Regions from separate parts of the Homo sapiens genome. Here region 1 is linked to region 2. The links come from fine-mapping of genetic effects on gene expression. Tissue or cell type: whole blood. Region 2 holds a variant in brackets; the other region holds the start of a gene. All regions are shown on one strand. Distances are between the middles of the regions.

Region 1 (2,771 bases), 27 kb before region 2:
GAAAACCAAAGCAGTTGATGCTTGAACCCATGTAGGAGTTCTCTTGTGGAGAATAGGGTAGAAATAGTAAACAGAAATAAGAGTCCAGGTTTGGGAGTCAGACTGGCCTGAAATGAAATTCTGGTCCTGCACTAATAGATCTGTGACCATAAGTAAGCTACTCACCCTCTGTATGTCTCTAAAATGGGGATATGAAATGAGGGTAGAAAGGGAAACAAGTGCTGCACCTGATTTGGGCAAACAATTCAGAAATTTTTAGTTTCCCTATGTAAGTCCCATATTCAGGGGAATTGGCAAGTTTCACTAGAAAAAAAAAAATTGGTTGATTCTCCACAATCAGAGCATCCAGAGTATTTTATCTTGTTCCTATTGTAACGTTTGCTAGAGCTACAATACAATAAAGTATTGTACTTAAAATGGGAGTAACACTGTTTAAAAAATTGTCCTTCAGCTAAATATTAATTTAAGAACTTGAATTGTTTGGAAGCCCTGCTTAAATTTAGTCTTTGTACACTGCCTATGTTGATAAATACAGACAACTTCCAAAACCAGGATTACTTTCATTTTAAATGAGTATTAATAGATGATATTGCCATATTTCTAATTGTGGTGATTGTGTGTGACAGTGTGTTCCGAATTCCCTAAAAGTCCTGCTGGCTTTTCTGTTCACATATAGAAAATAAAGATAATTTAGGGCTTCTGAGATCACAGTAGGTCTACTTACCCAGCACTGAAAATACACAAGACTGATACGATATTTTAAAACTAACTTAGGGTAGGGTGTAGATAAAGGGCCTTTCTTCCCCAAACAGCACCTTGATTTTCTGGGAGATGGACTGATTTCCTGAAAGCCTTGTCCTGAAGACACCTGGCCAGCTTCTACTGAGAACAAGTGCCCTTTTAGACTCTTTTCAATCCTCAAATTCTCTGATTCCAAGTCTGTCAGAGAACAGAAAGTTACATAGTAGCATTAAAAAGCATGAGAAGTCAAAAAAATAATAACTGGCCTTAGTGGCCAGAGCAGCTGCTGCATACACTTATCACAGGTTTCGGCTTTGTAAATTAATTCATCTGCAAATAGTGCACTGTCTCCAGGTACAAATTCGATGCTGGAGCACTGGTTTCTTAAGGATTTAAGTTTAAAGTCAAAGGCTTCCTGCCCTAGGTGTTACAAATAAGTAGTGTCGTTTTCTTTTTTTGCTCTGAGTTTGTTCATCCAATCGTATCCGAGTATGCAAATAAACTTTAGCCCGTGCAGATAAAAAAGGAACAAATAAAGCCAAGTGCTCTATCAGAACCAAATTGCTGAGCCAGTCACCTGTGTTCCAGGAGCCGAATCAGAAATGTCATCCTCAGGCACGCCAGACTTACCTGTCCTACTCACCGATTTGAAGATTCAATATACTAAGGTGAGTAAAACTTCTATTTTCTGCTTTGACTCGGGTTTGCAAAAACTGCATTTATGTAAAGCATTAAAGGTCAATTTAAGTAAACTTGTGTAAAGAGCCCTTTGCAAATATAAAAATAAAAGGCATGCAAAATGCAGGTCTCAGTTTAGTGTCCTGATCAAATATGATCTAAATCATATCAGACAATCTTTCATAAATTTATTTCTTAAAATATTTCCAAGCGAAAGGAATTCTCTTCTGTGTGAAAGGATTCTTATACCAGGATTCAGAGGACTTTACTAAGCACTTCTATTAACTTCACTATAGCCGGCATGTATGATAAGAGAGCAAAATACTCACTAGAGAAGCTTACTGGAAAGAACCAAACGAGTAGGAACAATAGAAAGCAAACAAGGAGAAAGAGAGCATACTGAAATAACATAACTTTCCAATATGTTTAATAAAATGAGTGTTAAAATAGGGGGACTTAAGTCTGATAATTGGATTCGAAAATCTTCAGATGGACTTGCATTATTTTGCATATTTTGGTGGGAGGAAGAAAAGCATTATTTCTTCAGCCAAGTTTGTTGCCATTGGAGCAGATGTGTAATTGTTAACTGATAAATATTTAGAGAAACAAGAGCAGGAGCTAGATCCAGACTTTAAAATCCGCAGCTGGGGGGAACTAGGAAATGGATCCTGCTTGAGTCGTTCTGAGAGTAACTCTGAACTTTGCCTGTTTCACACTGCTTTCCTGTCAGATCCTAGAACTCCAAAACAAACAAATGAATAAAACACAATCTAACCAAAATTACTTGAAGTTATCTTTATGGTGTGATGCAGAAAGTATGGTAAGAAATTAACTCTTGCAAATCAAGAGAGAGCCATTTTGCTGTCTGAATTAGCCAACAGAAAAACAAAGGGCATTATAATTTAATGATAAAGTAAAAGTCCCCACTGTTATATATTTATTTCCTCACTTGTAACCATGGATGGCTTTGAAATCCCAAGGTCTGTTGCATTTTCATTTTCATAAAGCACAACAAATGAGGAAGTTGCTCAGCTGATTGGCTCTTTTCCTCAGGAAAGTAGCAGCAGAGATCAGATTGTGCCTTTAACATGGTTGACCAGCAGCTATGAAGTGTATTTTAAGGTATTGTTATCACGAGGTTTTGTTAAAGAGGAAAGATTTTTTCCATTTAGTTTTACTACAAATGGTAGCATGAAAAATGCAGTAAATCCATACCGTCAAACAATTTACATTTGGCAAAGGTATGTCCAAAAGGTTGCAAGAGTCCAGTCTCCCTCATTTTCTTATTCCAAGTTTGTCATTCACAAGAAATTTCAATTGAAAGTGGGTACATTTAAAAATACATTTCATGA
Region 2 (2,771 bases):
TTTTGTGAATGTCAAATACATTTGTTTATATATGATTGTGTGTGTTTTATTTTTCAGATGGAAATTTTTTTACATATACAAGACATGAACCTATTGGTGTATGTGGCCAAATCATTCCTGTAAGCTTTTCTCCTATATAATTCTCAATTTTAAAAAGAAGAGTTCTTATTCTATCTAATGATGAAGCTTTCTCTAAAACAGATGGATGCTTATGTATTTGTTAAATGTGGAGTAAATGTAAGATTTGTTGAACTTGGTCTCCCTGTGACTAAACTTCTTGCATATGAATTAGGTAGTCCGAAAACCTATCTATATTCTGGCATATCTCTTGAGAATGTTTTAATACTACATCATCCATAAATGTTAACCCTTTACTCTATGGGTTGTTTTATTAAAAGTTGTATTATGTACTCTTTATAAGAGCCAAGCTTTACATGTATATGGCAAGGTGCTCTCCACTGCACATCTGCAGGATAGCATTTTGGTGGAATGTAGTGGGGCCTACTATTCTCCAACGCACTTTCTCATTGAGACATCTCATCATGCAGAACAGTAGCTCCCAGAGTGTTCAACTCATGACACACATTTTTTAATCAAAATGGAAAAAAGAATACCAGAGGCATTTGAAGCACTGCATGGAATATATTTTACCTTTAGATAAGAGGCTCAGATCCTCCATATTACTCTTAGAGGAAAGTAGCCTTTTTAAGAGGATTGTGAAGATTTTTTAAGCCCAACAAACAGGACACTATCTAAATGATTTTATTTTAACTGACATGCTTTAAAAGGCCAAACAAAAAAATGGTAGCGAAGTCCTTATGTGAAGAAATGGTCAAGACTTATCTTTGGCTCCAATGAGATTGAAATATATTCATATCAATATTTTAGTGAAATTGCTTATTAATTCAAAAGTCCCAATAAATCGATAAAAACTATATAATTATGAACACTGATAATAGCTGATATGTACTACTTGTCTATGCTAGACCAGTCATTGTGTTGAGCCCCTGGCCCTCTTTCTTGGTTAATGCTCAAGACAGCCTTCTGAGGCAGAGAGGACTATTATCAGCACTCACAGATTATGAAATCAGATACAGAGAGCACGTAACCTGTGTGAGTTCACATGGCTGGTCAGTGATTGAGCTGAGATTTGAACCCAAGTACTTGGCCTCTGGACCCTGGACATCTTTGTCTTTAGCAAGGTATTTTTCCTGGAAATAAAAGCTACTAAATAATATTATTGGGTAAATAATTACAATAAATGACTTATGGAGAAGGAGAGTAATCATCCTTTTTAAACATTTTTAGATAACTTACAGTGTGCTCCATAATAAGCCAAACCATGCAGTGATTTTTTTTTTCCTGGTAGAAAAAGAACTCAACAGTACTTGATTAAATTTTGAGGTTCTCTCCTATTTCCTTCTCATATCTCATATCTGGTTTATTCAGAGCGTTTTAGCATTTACTAGTTGCTTTTAGCAATGAAGTATAATATGCCAGATGATTTCACAAAACTACGCAATTATTACATAACATCTACAGGGGGTGTATAATATGGAAGTTGGATTAGCAAATATG[C/T]CTTTTGCAATACAAAGAATCTATTGTTACATATTGCTTTCTAGTGGAATTTCCCGTTGGTTATGCTCATTTGGAAGATAGGGCCTGCACTGAGCTGTGGAAACACAGTGGTTGTCAAACCAGCAGAGCAAACTCCTCTCACTGCTCTCCACGTGGCATCTTTAATAAAAGAGGTAAGTCTCCCGAAATCAAAATATGCTCAAGAACTCAAGAATCCTAAATTACAATAGGAAGACCTCATTTGTTGCTACTATAAAGTACATTATTTACAGATGGCTCCTGTCCAGTGGGGGGAATACATTTAGCATGACGGCTGGCTGCAATTTCTGGCAGTCACCCCAAATTCATCTCTGCCCAAATGCAGACAGGAAGCCAAACACAAAGGTTTGGTGTCAAACAGTCAACTTGGGATCACATTTTTGCTTCTTTGTCCAACTCTCATGAACATAAATTCATGTTGAAATTAATGTAGCATTCTTTCAAATGTTGAAACATTAAGTTGGTTTGTACCTGCCACTGATGGCCTAGTGTTTTCTGCAAAATTGTGTAAACTAATCTATGTAAGGTTGAAAGGGCCTCTATGCCAATATGCTTGTTTGTAATATTGGGCCACATTATTTCCAAACACTTTTCAATCTACTCATGAGTGGATATGTTTATATTCAGTTTTCTATTATGAGTTCCTCTGCATTTATCTTCCTGTTCAAAAACAGTAAAAGAACATGTAAAACATTTTCATCAGCTATCTAGATTGTGTTAATATACTTGCAAACAATTCATTGTCCTTTTTTCTTCATCTTACCAAATCTTAAAAAATAAATGTTAATCACTAGAAACTTAAAGTTACAAAACTGAACTTATCTTTTAAAGATATTATTTATTGAAATTAAAAACAGGGAAAAGAGATGTCAAAATGAAACATTTCGATGCAAATAACATGAAATTGTAATGTGCCCAACTCAGTTCCCATGCCTTCACCTGAATTCTTTAATGAAGATTGAAATCAACCTGTGATGTTGAATCATGAATGGGATGACAGTATTTACTTAACAATTTACTAAGTAATGCCAATGGGAATTTGCAACTCAGCAGTTATGCCCTCAACAATCAACAACAGCTAGGAACTAAAAAATGTTAGATCCCTTCAGCTTCTTATTTTTGCTGATGGGAATAATAAACATGTTACTTACTTT

What was found. PIP is the estimated chance that this variant, and not a neighbour inherited with it, causes the effect.
Region 1: it holds the start of ALDH1A1, and the variant in region 2 is fine-mapped to the expression of ALDH1A1 in whole blood (TOPMed, PIP above 0.99).

The regions. Positions count from the first base shown.
Region 1 is chr9:72,951,573-72,954,343 of GRCh38, reverse strand. It overlaps ALDH1A1 (aldehyde dehydrogenase 1 family member A1), which reads left to right and starts at 1,291. Exons shown (of 13, transcript NM_000689.5): 1 at 1,291-1,409. The coding sequence starts at 1,344.
Region 2 is chr9:72,924,464-72,927,234 of GRCh38, reverse strand. ALDH1A1 (aldehyde dehydrogenase 1 family member A1) reads left to right here. Exons shown (of 13, transcript NM_000689.5): 5 at 58-119; 6 at 1,623-1,751. Among named protein-coding and RNA genes, the nearest start is that of ALDH1A1, 27 kb to the left of the region's middle. The variant C/T (reference allele first, on the strand shown) is at 1,579.